Regions from separate parts of the Homo sapiens genome. Here regions 1, 2, 4 and 5 are each reported to be linked to region 3. Evidence: microRNA targets listed by miRTarBase, many of them from high-throughput screens and not tested one by one. Region 3 holds a microRNA gene; each other region holds the end of a gene's coding sequence. Distances are between the middles of the regions.
What was found. The annotated mature microRNA hsa-miR-6502-3p reads UAGACCAUCUUUCUAGAGUAU and lies in region 3 at 1,381-1,401, opposite strand. An mRNA with a match to its seed (bases 2 to 7 or 8) in the 3' UTR can be bound and repressed. Matches are read on the target gene's strand: a 7mer-m8 pairs with bases 2 to 8, a 7mer-A1 pairs with bases 2 to 7 and ends in A, and an 8mer does both.

Region 1: the mRNA of PELP1 is a reported target of hsa-miR-6502-3p. Seed matches in the 3' UTR shown: 7mer-m8 at 983-989.
Region 2: miRTarBase lists NANOG as a target of hsa-miR-6502-3p. Seed matches in the 3' UTR shown: 7mer-m8 at 2,802-2,808.
Region 4: the mRNA of WHAMM is a reported target of hsa-miR-6502-3p. Seed matches in the 3' UTR shown: 7mer-m8 at 1,328-1,334 and 7mer-m8 at 2,713-2,719.
Region 5: the mRNA of AFF2 is a reported target of hsa-miR-6502-3p. The part of its 3' UTR that is shown has no 7-base or 8-base seed match.

The regions. Positions count from the first base shown.
Region 1 is chr17:4,668,659-4,671,658 of GRCh38, reverse strand. PELP1 (proline, glutamate and leucine rich protein 1) reads left to right here. Exons shown (of 17, transcript NM_014389.3): 17 at 128-1,885. The coding sequence ends at 220. Among named protein-coding and RNA genes, the nearest start is that of ALOX15, 28 kb to the right of the region's middle. RefSeq lists an enhancer at 1,463-1,632.
Region 2 is chr12:7,794,288-7,798,342 of GRCh38, reverse strand. It overlaps NANOG (Nanog homeobox), which reads right to left. Exons shown (of 4, transcript NM_024865.4): 3 at 3,800-3,886; 4 at 1-3,664. The coding sequence ends at 3,248. Among named protein-coding and RNA genes, the nearest start is that of NANOG, 6.9 kb to the right of the region's middle.
Region 3 is chr12:66,248,474-66,252,528 of GRCh38, reverse strand. It overlaps MIR6502 (microRNA 6502), which reads right to left and starts at 1,447; the gene lies at 1,372-1,447. It overlaps IRAK3 (interleukin 1 receptor associated kinase 3), which reads right to left. Exons shown (of 12, transcript NM_007199.3): 12 at 1-4,055.
Region 4 is chr15:82,832,626-82,836,680 of GRCh38, forward strand. WHAMM (WASP homolog associated with actin, golgi membranes and microtubules) reads left to right here. Exons shown (of 10, transcript NM_001080435.3): 10 at 604-3,483. The coding sequence ends at 911. It also overlaps a transcript of HOMER2 not described here. Among named protein-coding and RNA genes, the nearest start is that of WHAMM, 25 kb to the left of the region's middle. RefSeq lists enhancers at 1-860, 1-173.
Region 5 is chrX:148,991,004-148,994,909 of GRCh38, reverse strand. It overlaps AFF2 (ALF transcription elongation factor 2), which reads right to left. Exons shown (of 21, transcript NM_002025.4): 21 at 1-3,699. The coding sequence ends at 3,578. Among named protein-coding and RNA genes, the nearest start is that of AFF2, 490 kb to the right of the region's middle.

The sequences.
Region 1 (3,000 bases), not on the chromosome of region 3:
GAGAAGGTGGGGCTGGCGGGAGAAGGGGTGGCAGCTGCTTCTCTTAGGAGAGGTTTGCCCAGCCTGAACCATTCTTCTGTGTATGTGTGTGTGACTATTCTGAATCTTGTATCTTTGTGCCTAAAAGGAGCAGGATGACACAGCTGCCATGCTGGCCGACTTCATCGATTGTCCCCCTGATGATGAGAAGCCACCACCTCCCACAGAGCCTGACTCCTAGCCATCTTCTGCACCCCACTCTTTGTTTCCAATAAAGTTATGTCCTTAGATAGCGACTGCTGCTTCTGCCTTTTGCCACACCTGGGTCCCCAGCCAGAAGCTCAAGTGTCTGCTGGGCTTTTCAGGGTGTCCATAGTATTCCCCAGATGTCTCCATAGCTGTCCTCTTTTTGACGATCCAGAGAGGAACAACTGACATTGGTGTAATGGACTGTCCCATCACTCAGCACGATGGTGTCAGAATTGTAGGATTCTGGCTGGATGCTAAACGTGCAGAATTGTGTGTAGGGTTAAGAATGAGGAGTTATAGAGACACAGCCCTGCTTTCGTGTTTGTATTCGGGGTGGGAAATGTGTGGAGAATGCATCCTAGTGAGTGGACCTGTGTCAACACCCACATGCCCACACGCATGCGTGCTCAGCCCCTTGGTCTGAAAGGGCAGGCTGAGTGATTGCTCAGTCTATGGAAGTTTAGGAAATTAGGAAAAGGTGTGGAGCAGTTTAGTCATTGAATTCTGGGAAATTTGGACCTTACCCCAAGATGAAAGGGTGTCCGTAGTGGGTACGTTGGGAATGACCTCTGTTTTGGGGCTAGTCCTCCTAATGACAGTTCCCCTCACAGCTCCCTGGCAGGAGTTTGATAAGCTCACCCCAGGCCTTCCTGCTCACTCTTGAGGTGTGGATATTTCCCACCCAGTGTCTTTTCTTTTCTTTTTTTTTTTGAGATGGACTCCTGCTCTGTCGCCCAGGCTGGAGTGCAGTGGCATGGTCTCAGCTCACTGCAACCTCTGCCTCCCAGGTTCAAGCAATTCTCTGCCTCAGCCTCCTGAGTAGCTGGGATTACAGGCGCCTGCCACTGCCTGGCTAATTTTTGTATTTTTAGTAGAGGTGGGGTTTCACCATGTTGGCCAGGCTGGTCTTGAACTCCTGAGCTCATGGTCCACCTGCCTTGGACTCCCAAAGTGCTGGGATCACAAGCATGAGACACCGCACCTGACTGTCCCAGTGTCTTTTCTTTAAGCACTAATCCTATTCTAGGCCTTGCTGGGATGGACGTGTGAGGATGAACCGAGAGATGTGTCTGTGAGAGGGTACCAAGATTGGTGGGCTTGAACTAGGGGCCCCGTGGTTTTTTTTGCTCAGTCAGTTGAATCATGAACGTAAGTAAAGTGCCTTCGCAATGCAGAAGAGGGAGTCATTTCTCCCAACATGTATCCTGAAGAGCCCTTTGAGGAGGTGGCATTTGAGCTAATTTTTGGAAACTTCAGTAGGATTTTAAAAAGTTACCCCTCAACTTGTTTTCGAAATAAACAGAAAAGTGAGAACAGTATAATAGATAACCTTTGCCTAGATTTGCCAATTAACATTTAGTCATGTTAACTCTTATCCCTATAAACTGCGTATCTACATGTAGACATGTATCTATATTACACCCATATATCTGTCTAATCTATACATCTGTAGTTATACACATTTCTTTTTTCATGGGACCACGTGAAAGTAAGCTGTAGACACCGTGGCCCTTCCCATCCCAGATTCTTTAACATGAATTATCTTCTAAGATAAGAATGTTTTTCTGCACAATCCTGATACCATTATCAAACCTAAGAAAAATAACAGTAATCCAGTGATAATTGTGATATTAAAATTTTCCTATTAATTCCTAAACTGTCTTAATAGCTTTTTTTTTTTTTTTTCCTCCTCTGAGTTCAAGAGGAATTTCTTCTAGGTGGAGAAGGCCCTGGAAGGTTTAAGGATCACTGCAAGGACAAGGGTGTAGTGTGAAAAGTGCAATAGTGGTTTTTCAGAAAGGGAAAGAACCTGATTTCTGGAAACTAGATAGGTGAAGTTGACATTGATTTTGGGGAAGAGGCTAGAACAGAATTTTTTCTCATTTGAATGGTGTTCTGGATCGGGAAAACATCCACATGGTTCAAAACTCAAGAGGTACAAAAGGTTTGTTGAAAAGTCCTCTTTAGCCATGAGATTTTCTGCCAGAGCAGCCAGTATGATCAGTTTTTGCATATTCATCTGGAGATATTGTATGCACATACAAATATATATATAATTTTAAATGCAAATGGTAGTATATTATCACGTAACATAAATCAGAGGCTGTCTCTACTAAAAAATGCAAAAAATTAGCTGGGTGTGGTGGCAGGCACCTGTAGTCCCAGCTGCTCAGGAGGCTGAGGTGAGAGAATGGCGTGAACCCGGGAGGCGGAGCTTGCAGTGAGCCATCGCGCCACTGCACTCCAGCCTGGGCGACAGTGAGACTCCATCTCAAAAAAAAAATTAGCTGGATGTGGTGGAGTGCACCTGTAATCTCAGCTACTCGGGAGGCTGAGACAGGAGAATTGCTTGAACCCAGGAGGCGGAAATTGCAGTGAGCCGAGATCGCGCCACTGCACTCCAGCCTGGGCAACAGAGTGAGATTTCGTCTAAAAAAAAAAAATATATATATATATATATATATATATATATATATGTGTGATATATATATATATGTGTGTGTGTGTATATATATATGTGTGTGTATATATATATGTGTGTATATATATGTGTATATATATATGTGTGTATATATGTGTGTGTGTATATATATGTATGTGTGTATATGCATGTATGTATCTATATGTATGTGTGTATATATATGTATGTATGTGTATATATATAATGTATGTAACTATAGGTCCACAGGAGGTTGCAGAGATGCTAATGAGAGGGTAGGGATGACAAGCTGTCCTTCAGCCAGTTTCCTCCAGTGGTTACATCTTACATTA
Region 2 (4,055 bases), 58 Mb from region 3:
CTGGAGTGGGGTGGCATTATCTGGGGTCACTGCAACCTCCCGGGTTCAAGTGATTATCCTGCCTCCGCCTTCCAAGTAGCTGAGATTACAGGCGCAAACCAAGACCTCTGGCAAATTTCTGTATTTTTAGTAGAGACAGGGTTTCGCCATATTGGCCATGCTAAACTTGAACTCCTGACCTCAGGTGATCCACCTGCCTTGGTCTCCCGAAGTGCTGGGATTACAGGTGTGAGCCACGGCACCTGGCCCACTAATCTTACTGCTTTTGACTGTAGTTATTATTGTTACTTTAAAGATTATTCCAAATAGATCTCTAAATTCTTACCTGCCAAGAGGTTGAAGATTAATACTGGGTGATTAAAAAAAAAAAAGTTCAGAAAACATAATACAGGGCTAGGCTGGTGACTCATGCCTGTAATCTCAGCACTTCGGGAGGCCAAGGCTGGTAGACTGCTTGAGCTCAGGAGTTTGAGACTAGCCAGGCCAACATGGGGAAACCCCGTCTCTCCTAAAAACACAAAAGTTAGCTGGCATGGTGGTGTGCACCTATAGTCTGGGCTATTTGAGAGACTCAGGCAGGAGGATTGCTTGAATCCGGGAAGTCGAGGCTACAGTGAGGTGAAATGGTGCCACTAAGCCCCAGTCTGAGCAGCAGAATAAGCCCGTCTTAAAAAAATAAAAAAGAAGGCTGGGCACTGTGGCTCATGCCTGTAATCCTAGCACTTTGGGAGACCGAGGAGGGTGGATTACCTGAGGTCAGGAGTTCGAGACCAGCCTGGTCAATACGGTGAAACCCCATCTCTACTAAATACAAAGAATTAGCTGGGCATAGTGGCAAATCCCTGTAATACCAGCCACTCGAAAGGCTGAGGCAAGAGAATCACTTGAACCTGGGAGGTGCAGGTTGCAGTGAGTAGAGATTGCATCATTGTGCTCCAGCCTGAGTAACAAAAGTGAAGTTCCATCTCAAAAAAAAAAAAAAAAATTGCCCAGACACGGTGGCTCACACCTATAATCCCACCACTTTGGGAGGCCGAGTCAGGTGGATCACCTGAGGTCAGGAGTTCGAGACCAGGCTGGCCAACATGGTGAAACCCCATCTCTACTAAAAATACCAAAAATTAGCCGGGTGTAATGTTGGGTGCCTGTAATCCCAGCTACTTAGGAGGCTGACGCAGGAGAATTGCTCGAACCCAGGAGGCGGAGGTTGCAGTGAGCCAAGATTGTGCCACTGCACTCCAGCCTGGGCAATAGAGAGAGACTGTCTAAAAAAACAAACGATAGGCCAGGCGCAGTGGCTCACGCCTGTAATCCCAACACTTTGGGAGGCCAAGGCTGGTGGATCATGAGGTCAGGAGTTCAAGACCAGCCTGGCCAACATAGTGAAACCCTGTCTCTACTAAAAATACAATTAGCTGGGCATGGTGGCTCACCCCTGTAGTCCCAGCTACTTGGGAGGCTGAGGCAGGAGAATCACTTGAACTCGGGAGGCGGAGGTTGCGGTGAGCCGAGATCGCTCCACTACACTCCAGCCTGGGCAACAGAGTAAGACTCCAGTCTTAAAAAAAAACAAAATAAAACAAAAAAAAAACACTTGGAATTAGACTGGATAGTCTTAGTAACATTGGACAATTGGGGAAATAATGAGAGAAAAGACTGGAAAAAACCACTCTGATAACCTGCATCATGCTGCTTCAGAGTGAAGGGACGTGCTCTCAGATCAGATACATTTAGGGCAGGCACAAGATGGGAAAAGGACAGTAAAGGATTATTAGTATAATTCACAGATGCCTGCGTAGCTGCTCTTAAGGTGAGAACATAAATCTGTTTCAACTAGCCTTAGAATTTACTTACATATAGGCCTCTGATGAAACTTTAAATGTTAGCATCAATTACAGATTCATACACGGAAATAACCCATTACATTTGTAGATGCACATGTACAATGCACGTAAGTGCCCTTTTTTCTAAAACTGGCATATTTATTATTCATTCATTCTAAAACTGGCATATTTATTTATTATTCATTTATTTACTTATTTATTTATTTATTTTTGAGATGGGAGTTTTGCTCTTGTCGCCCAAGCTGGAGTGCAGTGGTGTGATATTGGCTCACTACAACCTCCACCTACCAGGTTCAAGCGATTCTCCTGCCTCAGCCTCCCAAATAGCTGGGACTACAGGCATAGGCCACCACGCTCAGCTATTTCTATGCATTTCTAAGATAGCAGTGTCCTCAGCTAATTTCCTTCTCCACCCCAACCAAAAATTTAACAAAGATTTATGTTTAAGCTGTATATTTACTCATTGAAACACTCGGTGAAATCAGGGTAAAATCAACTAAAGGAAAAATAGTTGTTTCATTCATTTGAACTTAAACCAACTAAAGCAGTACTCATGTCATTACGATGCAGCAAATACGAGACCTCTTTCTACAAAGATTAGCACAACCAACAAATTAGGGGATATAGCAAAACAGAGCCAAAAACGGTAAGAAATCAATTAAGTATGTTACAGCTTAACCCTTTACCTCAATAGTTTTTAAAAAATAAGCAAAGCCTCCCAATCCCAAACAATACGAATACATCTTCATCACCAATTTGTACTTGTATTTCTTATTCTTGAGGTTAGATTCTAAACCCTAAAGATATCCAAACTAGTATTAGATCTACTTATCTATAGCCAGAGACGGCAGCCAAGGTTATTAAAATGTCTTTTCTAGGCAGGGCGCGGTGGCTCACGCCTGTAAATCCCAGCTGTTAGGGAGGCCGAGGCGGGTGGATCACAAGGTCAGGAGATCGAGACCATCCTGGCTAACACAGTGAAACCCCGTCTCTACTAAAAATACAAAATATTAGCCGGGCGAGGTGGCGGGCGCCTGTAGTCCCAGCTGCTCGGGAGGCTGAGGCAGGAGAATGGCGTGAACCCGGGAGACGGAGCTTGCAGTGAGCCAAGACCGCGCCACTGCACTCCAGCCTGGGCGACAGAGCAAGACTCCGTTTCAAAAAAAAAAAAAAAAAAAGTATTTTCTCCAGGAAGATCCAATAGGAAAAAAAAAAAAAAAGAAACCTCGCTGATTAGGCTCCAACCATACTCCACCCTCCATGAGATTGACTGGATGGGCATCATGGAAACCAGAACACGTGGTTTCCAAACAAGAAAAATCCTATGAGGGATGGGAGGAGGGGAGAGGAAGGATTCAGCCAGTGTCCAGACTGAAATTGAGTAATATCAGTTTCACTCATCTTCACACGTCTTCAGGTTGCATGTTCATGGAGTAGTTTAGGAATAAATCCATGGTTTGTGGAGTACTAAAATACCTAGTGGTCTGCTGTATTACATTAAGGCCTTCCCCAGCAGCTTCCAAGGCAGCCTCCAAGTCACTGGCAGGAGAATTTGGCTGGAACTGCATGCAGGACTGCAGAGATTCCTCTCCACAGTTATAGAAGGGACTGTTCCAGGCCTGATTGTTCCAGGATTGGGTGCACCAGGTCTGAGTGTTCCAGGAGTGGTTGCTCCAGGACTGGATGTTCTGGGTCTGGTTGCTCCAGGTTGAATTGTTCCAGGTCTGGTTGCTCCACATTGGAAGGTTCCCAGTCGGGTTCACCAGGCATCCCTGGTGGTAGGAAGAGTAAAGGCTGGGGTAGGTAGGTGCTGAGGCCTTCTGAAAGAGAAGGAGGGATTAACAGAAAGGGTACAAGGACAACCAGAACTGTCTGTGACTGGAGTTGTGTGTTTCAGGGATGGACAAGATTGAAAGATCACTGAAAGGAAAGAACAGAATGAAGTTTCCTGTTACCTGCGTCACACCATTGCTATTCTTCGGCCAGTTGTTTTTCTGCCACCTCTTAGATTTCATTCTCTGGTTCTGGAACCAGGTCTTCACCTGCAGGAAAAAATGATAGAAATTGTAAAATATTCATAATACAGAGGTACTTTGAATCAAAGTATATTGCTAACTTTTATTCCTGGCCAGGTGCCATATCTCATGCCTGTAATCCCAACACTTTGGAAGGCCAAGGCGGGCAGATTGCTTGAGCCCAGGAGTTCGCTAC
Region 3 (4,055 bases):
AACTCATATCAAGTAACTGCAGTGGGTGCCTGTAGCAGAGAAGTTGTAGCAGAGGAGTAGGATAGTGATAAAGGCAGGAGACATGGTACCTACTAAAAATCTGTGGAATCAACAAATGACTTTTCACATCCATCCCTTTTCATAGGAGCTTGAACTGGCAGTGACTCCATTGTGCAATTTGGAACACAAGAAAAAGCATGGATTTTGAAGTCAGACAAATGTGAGTTCAAATCCTGGCTCCTCCAGATCTGGAAGGACCTGATGGGAGGACTGGGAGGACTTGATTTTAGCAAGTTAGTTTCCTGACTCAGTGTCCTCACCTTATTATAAGATGGGATCCACACCTTCAGGGTGACTCTAAGGGTTAACCAGAAAAAAACATGCAAAGCTCTAGACCCAGTTCCCTTCACCCTTACCCCATTTTTCTGGCATTAGGGATGGTTGTGCACAGCTGCTGTGGATCCCCAATTCCTTGAATAGCCATCCTGAGTGCTTCGTCAGTGCTCTTTTCTATTTCTCTTAATTCCGTATCTCTTTTCAGAAACCTTCTCCAAGAAGCCTTCTTCATCCTCTCAAAAATGCATAGTAATCTATTCCTTCTTCTCACCCTTTCAGCATTTACTTCGGTTGCATTGGTGTGTGGTTCAAATAACAGATGTCACTGAACTGTTGACTTGGGTAGATGCCCTGTCTTCCTTATTAAACTGTGTCTTACTTTGTACCTTAGTAGCTAATGCAGTGCTTTGATTCTAGCAGATGCTTAATAAATGCTACTCATGATAAACCTCACTTCCTGTACTCATCAGTCCTCAGGTCATTAAAGTTGTTTTACACAGGGTGATGTGCCACCCTATAAAACTACAATATTATGCAGTGAGTCACAGATCATTACAACTCCCAAGAAGTCAATAAAATTGATTATATCAGAAATCCCATACCTGTTTTTAAAAACAACAAAATGTTTTCTCCATGTGTTTGGGCATTATAAAATGGGACAAAAGCCTGAAGCTTAGTAAATAGGATCTGCCTGGAGGATTGCTCAGAGTGCATTACAAAAATGAGAGTAAATGAAATTATGAATTCATGTTTGCTGATCAGAGGGAACACCCGGAGACTCATTCTTGCTTTCTTATGTATCTTGGTCTCCACATCATGAAACTATAAAGGTATCCTCTTATTACCCATAGAAAGTTGCAACATTTAATTCATATCAACTAACGCTTATTAATACACCCACTAGAAGGCAAATCTAGTCAGGAAGACTGAATCACTCAACAGAAGATTTGGTACTTCCCAGCCACAGTGGCATCTGCTTACCACAACGTTAATCAGGTCACTGCCAGCTTATCTGACTTCATCTTTGAGGTGTCCAAAATAGTTATACTCTAGAAAGATGGTCTAGTCAATAAGATGATTGGTCAACAATCTTTCTAGAGCTCCCACTCTGTGCTAACCAACATCCTATGTAATAGGATGAATATAACAGAATGAAAAGAAAGGATCCTTTTCTCAAAAAACATACCAGTGATGGAAAGGTAGGATCTACCAATCTATAACAATTTAAGAGCACCTTAAGGCAGCGATTTTCACGGATGTGAAGAGCGGGCTTCACATCATTGGCATCAGCATCACCTGGGAACTCATTAGAAAGCAAAATTTCTAACCCCAGACCTATTGCATCAGAAGCTGGGTGGACCCAGCAATCTGCGTTTTTAACCAGCTTTCCAAGTCATTCTGATGCATACTACAGTTTGAGAAACCCTGCTTTAAGTCAGCTAAGCAAGTTCAAATCAACATAATACCCACAGATTATATGTGCGGAGTAACTGCATGGGCCTGGTGTTAATCAGAGCTTCCTTAATGACCCTTCATTGAATGTATTGGTGGGGGTCCATATTCTAAGTGAAAAACAGTTTAACACAGAGTCAATTCTTGATGATCTCTTTTGTGAATCAGAGAGCTCTGAGCAGCCAGATACCGTACAGAGCAGTGGTGGGCATGGGTTCTCCCAACTGCTTACCGAGGGCCTGTATAAAGCCTGTCAGTCAGACTAAGACTTACTGTGGTTTTAATCTCACTTCGTGCTTTTTTGGAAAATTGTAACTCCATGTTTCTGACCTTGGTCTGTTAATCTCACCCTGATTCCTGATGATTTTCTTCTTTGATTAGTTGTTCTTCAACATGGAATCTAATGTGAATATGATTAACCCAACCATACTGACTCACCAAAAAAATAAAATAAAACAAAAGACATGAGCCTATTCCTCTGCTGGACAAGAAACTAGAGGTTTACCCTTCTATTACAAGCTCCTTGGAGAGGAAAATTCAGTAAATCCTCTGAAAATGGTTTTCTTCAGTGTTTCTATCCATCATCATAAGGAGTCATTATCCTCCCTTTGTTAATTTATTCGGCAATGTTTATTATAGCTGAATTATTGATTATGTGGCTTCATAGGGGTAATTTAATTCAACTTAATTTATAAGGAAACACCTGCTCTGTGTAGGATGACACATTAGGCTCTGAAGAGATGGCCCTTACACACTCAGGGAGTATGACAGACAGAGTAATGGTCCCCCGAAGATGTCCACGTCCCAATTCCAGAAACCTGTGAATATGTTACTTTACACGAGAAAACGGACTTTGCAGGTGTAATTAAATTAAGGATCTGAGACACAGAGATTTTCCTGGCTTATATGAGTGGGCCCAGTGAAATCACAAAGGTCTTTATAAAAGACATGCAGAAGGGCCAGAATGAGAGGAAGAGGGTAGTGAAGAGATGCGGTGAGACAGACAGAGAGAGGGAGATCTGAAATGTCACGTTGCTGGCTTTGAAGACGGAGGAAGAGGCCATGAGCCAAAGAAGGCAGGTGGCCTCTAGAAGCTGGAAAAGGCAAGGCAGTGAGTTCTCCCCAACAGCCTCCAGAAAGAATGCTAAGGAATTCTGACCTCCAGAACTGCAAAATAATTAATTTATGTTACTTTAAGTCACTAAATTTGTGATAATGTGTTACAAAAACAATAGAAAACTAATATAGGGAGTTTACAACCTAGTAAAAGAGATGAAGGCTGGGCGCGGTGGCTCACGCCTGTAATCCCAGCACTTTGGGAGGCCAGGCAGGCGGATCATGAGGTCAGGAGATCGAGACCATCCTGCCTAACATGGTGAAACCCCGTCTCTACTAAAAATACAAAAAATTAGCCGGGCGTAGTGGCGGGCGCCTGTAGTCCCACCTTTACTCGGGAGGCTGAGGCAGGAGAATGGCGTGAACCCGGGAGGCAGACCTTGCGGTGAGCCGAGATTGTGCCACTGCACTCCAGCCTGGATGACAGAGCGAGACTCCGTCTCAAAAAAAAAAAGAGATAAGACAAGCAGCTTTGATATAATTCAGAAAGTGATAAATATAAAATAGAAATACAAAGAAATTGCTGTGGAAATACTGATAAAGGGAGTACTTCTGGTTGTAGAGATTAGGGAAGCTTCCAGGAGGTGGCTGTTTTGTAGAGCTCTGATGATTGGTAGGATTTCAAAAGAGGGAGATCCAAGAAACAGCAGGAATGAAGGCCCAGAGTTGAAAGGTGTAGATTAAACAAAAAGCTGACCTAGGCCCTTGACCAGCCATTTTCTCAGGAATAAAAATTACTTGATGGACATTTCACATAGTCTCCTTAAGATATAATAGGTCACTAAGTCTGTTTTTAAAAAGCTGTAATAATAGTCAATACAGGATAAACTGTCCTAAGAGTTTAGGATAGATCTTGGGAAGAAATCCCCTTTCAACCCAGAGCATGCCGTAGCTAAGGGTGAACCTGGCTCATTTTCAGACAAGCAGGCTAGTCAGGGATTAACCAAAAAACAAGAGGGGTCAATCAGAATAACAAGGTGATTCTTTCCAAAGGTATCTATTAACATTTACAAATTAGACATTTCCTACAACCCGTGCAAGCAAGCTAAACCAAACGATGGAATCCAACTGAATGTTCTTGGCAGATGGAGGCTCTGAGGACTCACACTGAGGATGATGGAGAGGACATTACAATCCAGTCCCTTTTTGGT
Region 4 (4,055 bases), not on the chromosome of region 3:
ACAGAAAAATGTGCCAGCACCACCCCTCCGGTGGCGGTTCATTGAGTTGCCGGTTAAAGTTTTATTTTAAGCCTTTTCATGTGTAGAAACCTACTCACTTCATTGTCATAGAATGAGTCATCACTGACTAATACCCAAGACTGAAGTTAAATTGAGCAGGATAAATTTTTTTTAAAAGATTTCTTTTAGCTGGACAGGGTAATGAAGGAGATACAGCTTCAGAGGTATCCAGGTCACGCACAGTGGGTGAGACTATTCCACCCCAGGCCTCCGTAACACTCTTCAGGATGGGAGGGACAGATCACATTTGTCTTGAAAAACCGTCATTCTAACAAAAGTGCATGTCTGTTCCTGTCAGTTGCTATGGATTTGAAGAAGTTAGCAGAAAGGAAGTGGTTAAGCTAAAACATGAGCTATTCAGCTGTCCTGGATTCAACCAGGGAGCTTATCGTTAGCACGTAATCAAGGCATTTGCTTAATGAAGTGATTATTTGTTTAAATCATGGTGTTAACTGATAGGAGATTTCACAATTTCATAGCAGTAATGTCCTGGGAAGGGAAAGTGTTTTATTGATAGTACTAGCTCTGCTTATTCAATTTCAGGATCTATGGATGAAGTGTTGGCCTCCTTAAGGCATGGCAGAGCTCCTCTCCGGAAGGTGGAAGTGCCGGCGGTGCGCCCTCCCCACGCCTCAATCAATGAGCACATTCTGGCTGCCATAAGGCAAGGGGTCAAACTGAAGAAAGTTCACCCTGATCTTGGCCCAAACCCCAGCAGCAAACCAACCAGCAACAGACGCACCAGTGACCTTGAGAGGAGCATCAAGGCTGCGCTCCAGAGAATCAAGAGGGTGTCTGCTGACTCTGAGGAGGACAGTGATGAGCAGGACCCTGGCCAGTGGGATGGTTAGGCTCAAGTTTGACAAAGGCACCTGCCACAGTAGGCTTGAATAAAGTGGGTGAGTCTTAGACCTATCGAAAAGCATACTAACAGGGTGCTGATAGATGGGCCACATAACACCCCGGAAGATCAGCAGGGCCTTGTGTAGGCTGCTGCAGCATTTTTTTTTTTTTTCTTTTTTGAGATGGAGTCTCACTCTGTCGCCCAGGCTGGGGTGCAGTGGCGCCATCTCGGCTCACCGCAAGCTCCGCTTCCCAGGCTGGGGTGCAGTGGTGCGATCTTGGCTCACTGCAAGCTCCGCCTCCTGGGTTCACGCCATTCTCCTGCCTCAGCCTCCCGAGTAGCTGGGACTACAGGCGCCACCACCTTGCCCAACTAATTTTTTGTATTTTTTAGTAGAGACGAGGTTTCACCGTGTTAGCCAGGATGGTCTCGATCTTCTGACCTCGTGATCCGCCTGCCTCAGACTCCCAAAGTGCTGGGATTACAGGTGTGAGCCACCACGCCCAGCCTTTTTTTTTTCTTTCTTTTGAGACAGAATCTCTCTGTCATCCAGGCTAGAGTGCAGTGGCACGATCTTGGCTTACTGCAACCTCCACCTCCCAGGTTCAAGCAATTCTCTGTCTCAGCCTCCCGAGTAGCTGGGATTACAGGCATGCACCACCACGCCTGGCTAATTTTTGTATATTTAAGTAGAGACAAGGTTTCGCTATGTTGGCCAGGCTGGTCTTGAACTCCTGACCTCGTGATCCACCTGCCTTGGCCACCCAAAGTGTTGGGATTATAGGCATGAGCCACCGTGCCTGGCTGATGCTGGAGCTTTTATGTGACATGGTGACTCTTAAAACTGGGGAGGGACGTAGAGATGAGAGTTTCACACACCAGCCCATAGGTGGGATGTCAAGACCCATCGGAAGTGTCGCTGGCCTAAGAGAAGAGCACTTATTTCTCACCATGGCTGATCTAGAATTGTTCCCTGATTCTGAAAGAAGTTTACACTACACTGGTAAGCAGTACTATTAGACTACTGACTGTGGCCTTCTGTGCATATGGAATAATGATTTCTCAGATTTGTAGGCTTGAATGTGAATGTTATTTTATCAGTAATCAGAATAAATTGCTTATATTCAGGAGTTATTTTAAATATTTAAATGAAATTTATTTTAGGCACCAAGCACTACATAAACTCATAATAACTATTTGCAATGCATTAGCATCACTCACGGGGTAATGAAAACATACCTTAGCTGCTGTAAAAGCAAAGTCTTCCGTGTCCGGGTGGGCTGAAAGTTTTTAATAAAATTTTAGCTAAACATTTGTTTAAGTGAATACTAAGGATGGAGCAATAGTGTTATTTTCCTCAGGAACTGAAGTCTCATGCTGAAGTATTTTCTCCTTAAAATTAAATTTTTAAAATCAGGGAAGGGGAAGGGACTGATGCAAAGCAGTCCGTTCATTTCTCAGACTGCGAGCATCCCTACTAACCTCATCACCCTCACTCTGGTGATATTACTCCTGGGTCTCCACAGAACAAAAGGAACGCACCTCGTTTACAAAGAAAGTCCTGATTGATATAGAACAGAAATCTTCCTACTTCAGTTTTTTTGTTTTTTTTTTTGAGACAGAGTCTTGCTCTGTCAACCAGGCTGGAGTGCGGTGGCACGATCTCAGCTCACTGCAACCTCTGCCTCCTGGGTTCAAGTGATTCTCCTGCCTCAGCCTCTCGAGTAGCTGGGACTACAGGCGTGTGCCACCACACCCAGCTAATTTTTATATTTTTAGTAGAGATGGGGTTTCACCATGTTGGCAGGATGGTCTCGATCTCTTGACCTCGTGATCCTCCCACCTTGGCCTCCCAAATGCTGGGGGTTACAGGCGTGAGCCACCACACCTGGCCTTCCAGTGTCTTAACTAACTGGTACACAGCAGCCTGAGGGGCCTCAGTTGGCACAGCTGGGAGGGGCGTGAGTCCCTTTCAGCAGCTGCAGCCTGGGTCTCCCTCTGTGGCATGGCCACTGCCAGGTTTCCCAGCCACTGCCAGGTTGCCCACGGGTCTGTCATGTGTGCTACCTTTTCAGAATGCAAATCCAACTCCTGTGTATGAATGAATGTGCCTCACTGTGCTGGCCCAGGCCTGATGGGCCAAGCCCTGACTCTGCACTGGCCCCTGTACCTGCCGCTCCCACCCAGGTTCCCAGGGGTGTTCCAGTGGGGGACGCAACCTGCGGGCTACTCGCTGGGCATCAGGTCCAGATCCCAGAGACAGGTCCAGTGGCTGTGGCCCAGGCCTCCTTCCCCACCACAGACAGGCCAGGCTCAGCATCAAACTTCCTAGGGAAAGAATTTGGAATTGAAAAAGTAGCAAAATCACAACTTTGTGGGACTTTTCTTATGCATATTTTGCAGTTTGGCATTGTTTGTAATTACGTATTTATAATTTCAGTATTTTGAGATACCAGCGAGCTTAATCAGGCTAAAATAATTCTCAGAATTTGCTTTCTAAGGGCTGCCAAACACAAGAGGCCTTTGAAAAAAGGATCCTTTTCAAAAGAACGTTCTCACAATAAAAATTCCTGGCCCAATTGTGTCTTCTGTGCATCAACGCTTCCTTTCCTCCTCTGGAACCTTCTCTCCTTCCTTTCTCCCTTTTCCTGCTTTTTCCAGCCAAGCCTTGAAGTCAATCCAGACTTTGGCTTCAGGGAATTCAGAGCCAAGGAAGTGGGGACAAGTGTCTCCTATTGCCCAGCTTCAGAGCTCTCCAGTCGGCCTCCAAAGCACTGCCAGTCTTCACCTCTCCCTGGCTTTCCAGCCCACACAGGAAGGGCAGCCCCTCAGCCTGGCAGACAAAACCCTCAGAGACTTGGTTGCCTCCCCTGGGCAGCCCCTGCCCCTGCCACAGGTTTTAGTCCAGCAATACCATGCTGCTTCCTGCCTGCCCCCAAAGGGCCTGCTCTCTTAAGTGCCTGGAATTCTCCCTGCACCCTTCATGTCCTGGCAAACCCATGCCCATCCTTAGGTCTCAACCCCACAGCCTTTTCCGCCAGGTCTTCTCTGACCTCTCTCTCCTATACAGCCATGTACTTTGTCTTGGGAGTCTGGTACAAAGGAGGACTGGCATCTGCTCCTAGTACAGCCAATCCTATGGATTGTCCTG
Region 5 (3,906 bases), not on the chromosome of region 3:
CCACCTGCCAACTCATGCAGGTGAATTTTATCATGTCTGTTGAGAAGTATGTGAGGCTTCACCCTCACAACTCAACTGATTCTGCCTTCAAAGATATTTTCCAACCTCAAACTCCAACTTCAACCTCCGGGATGCAAATTTGCATGAAACAGAATCCAAATTAGATATCTTTGGGAAAGATATGCTAGAAGAGTATCTTTCCAATGCAGACAAAATCTAATGAATTTAGTGATGTAATGTCCAAATGAAAATTCATCCATTTGGAAACTCAACAAAACACATTTTTAGCCAATGGTTTCTAATTTTGCAACTTGCTTTTTGCCTGAAGATTTTGGTCTTTTCATTTCCTTACATGGAAAAAAAGGCATCCCGACCTTAAGTCTTTTAAAAGTAGTAGCAGCTAATCTGCTTTTCCAATTATGTCATCCAAATATAAAACTACTAGTATTTTCCCAATGAGATTATTAAGTAATTAACAGTCTACAGGCTGGCTAACAACATGCTTACAGCTAAATTCTACCCGGAGGACCACACTAGTAAACCCTTTTCAAAGTAATCCTACCTACCAAACTCAGACAGTTATATGACAAAACCACTAAAAATCCAAAGTTAATTAAAAATACAAAGCCAAGCCAACATCATAACACAAACTTGTCAAACTCTCTGTGGTTGGAGCTTGGGTGACAAGTGAAGGCGTAGTGGTGGCCCTACCTGGGTCAAGTTGCAGGGCTGAGATCATTTGGTGTACTTGCTCAGATGGAGCTTCCTTTTACTCTGCCCTCTATTCTAACCTCCACGTGCTTATTTAAGTGTGTCTCACCAAGCCTCCATCAAGATCTAGAGGCACGATCTCTCACTGCCATCCACATGTCTCATATCCCTCCCACAAACTGGTATACTGAAGAGATTCATTTGACAGAATATCTCCATCCCTTAGTCCCTCAAATAGCTGCACACCTACGACACGCATCACCATTTACACTGTGATGAACAGAGTAACTATAAAACAGCAACAATCCTTAATCATGAAACTGAAAGATGTCTTATCTCAAGGGATAGGAAGGTAATTCATCCTCCATGTTTAATTAGTTCCTAAGCTGCTTTATAAATGAGTCTACTACATAATCAAGTGGTGATCCAGAGCTCGATTGTCAGATTTGGTCACTGTGCTGCAGACTTGGCACATATTTTACACTCAGTCACCAGAGATGACAGAGAATCCTCTTGCCTCCCTGTTGTATGTAAGTAGATATAACAAGTCACTGAAACTAGAACTACAAGTCTTTCATCCATGAGGCAATATGCTTGTTTCTCTGGGAAACTGCCTCAACATTCTAATGTCTAGTTTCTGGATGTGGGATTTCAAGAAGAATCTACTCCTAAATCCATGATGGTCTAGGATTGTGGTTTAGGTTGAACTTACAAGTCAAGCCAGTGGGCTTCATTATATAGTAATAGCCAGGCACTCTACCTGGTAAACCATGATAAAGAGACAACTTGAGTCACTGCAAAGTCATCAGCTTAATTTTTATATGTGACACCAACCTTGGGTGTTCAGAGTCTTTAATGTTATCATCATTTTCCTCTTTTAAGAGGCTCAGAAAAGATTCTTTCAGGTTTCATTTGTGAGTGTTTGGATGCATAAGTGTTGTTGCTGAGACTGTAAACATAAAGCTCAACCACAGTGGGAGCATAAAAAGTGCTGGGTTCAGCTGCAGGGATGCTCCCATCAGCCATATTAACAACATGGCTTCAGCCATTGGAGTACAACTTCCACAGCCTTATACAACAAAAGGCCTTAAACTCAAAGATGACCAGAGCACAGCTCAAGTCTGGCTGTTTTGCAACTGGGGATATATCTAACCTTGACAATGAGAGTGCAGAGTCATCACCTGCTGTTTCTATCATGGACCTGCATGGCTGGCTTTAATAATCACACAAGTTTGCATCTTTCATGTGCATATCTATTATTTATCTGGTCATAACTCAGTGAACAGAATTTGATAACCCAGCATATTAAAGGCTACATGGAATTATATACCAGCAGGTAATTACCAGTAAGTAATGCATGGATAGTGTTTACCCCAAGTGTAAGAATCTTCTGGTGAGCTGGAACATCAAAAATGATATTTACATTGTGATGTTTAGGGACATAAAATGAATGTGAAGGATCATAAGGGGGTAGTCACAACCAGTGAGAAATGTCTCCAAATTAGGTGAATGGTTCCCAATGTTTAGGGCTCTTTCAAAGCATCTCAAGGTGAAGCACTACCCCACGACTCATTTTAAAAAAATAAAAGTTAGCTACTATTTAGAGAGTTTGGAGTTTTCTTAGAAATTTTCATGGAAATGATTCACAATAATATGGACTTTAATAAAAGGAGTAATTGTAATTCAGTCAAAAGTTAATGAGCCAAACAAAGGAAAGGGAAACACAGATAAGAGAAAAAAGAAAGTAGAAAACAGAAAACCTATAAGAGAGAAAATGTGAATAATAATTGAGGAAGTCCAGATTTTCAAGCCACTAGGAAGAAAACTGTATATCATTACTTCTAGGTAGTGATACCTTGACTTTTGTTCCCATAGATTTGAGCAAAATACAATTTAAAAATCCTGCCAGTTATGGACCCACTTACCAACTGTGTAAATGTTGTTGTTGCAAAGGAGGCAGAGGTGTGAATTCCTTGTTGGACACTTTCCAGACCTCTCTTAACTCCCACTTGTAAGTCTAGAGTGTAGCATTTTGGCTACTAAGGCATGCATCAACCAAACTGTTCTTCAAAAGGACAGCTTTGCACACAGAGAACCCCAGGTGAGGATTTACACTTCAAATAATGGAGTTGAAAAACACTGATGCCAGCTGATGCCTAAAACTTGTCAAAATAAATGTCACCCTTTCTTCTTATCATTAAAATTAACAAAATAGGGAATCAGGAAAGGGATGCTAACAAGAAAGTCCTCTGGTTGTGTGGCATAGCATCTTTTTAAGAGTAGCATTGCTATGCTCATTTATTTTCTTGATACTCTTGATTTTATGATGTTGCTACAACATCTAACCAGTGGGTTTTGACAATGAAAATTCTCACCTGAAGATTGAATCTGTGGGATACACAAAAGTTTGACAGATTCTGAAATATGTTCTTTTCTGGGTATAAGAGTAGAGTTTGGGGGATGGTCCCTTGTGTCTAAGTTCTCATGTATATGTAAGACCACTTGTTGCATTTCTCAGGAGCCTGTCTTTATCACAAGTGCTTCCCATTCTTTGTTTTGGGTAGTGTGGGCTTAAAACAATATTGTAGGGACTGTCATTCCATAAAGCACAAAAAGATGGTGGAATCTGAGAAATGCATATCAAATGCTAAAAGAAAAAAAATGACTAAGTAATAAAACGTACACTGCCCTTAAGTTGTAGTGTCAACTTACAATGACTTCTGTTTTTTACAGATAACAAAAGAAGCATAAAAACAAACATAACCAAAGAGAACGTTCCCCAGTGAGTGGAGTTCCACCAGTGACCATCAGTGCGCTGGTAGAGGTAGAGTGATGGGTCGTGATGCTAGAGATCTGAGAACACCCACTACAACAAGTGGGCATCGATGCGCAGCCAACACAGTCCTTGGCGAACGTAGCGGACAAGATTGGTCATGCTGCTGTGCTGGGTCAGAGGCCCCATCAGCGTGTCCAGATCACCAAAGAATTCTGAAAAGCAGAGCAGTTCTCAGTTAGGCCTTTATATGATATCATGAAAATATGCACCACATTGAGAAGCTGCTTTCACACAACACCACAACCACATGGACAATGGAAATGTGATTCATTTGTCCATTCATTCATTCAACAAACATTTATAGAGTGCCTACTAGGAGACCAAAACTCCACAAGTTTATCAAGCCCTATTATTTTAAT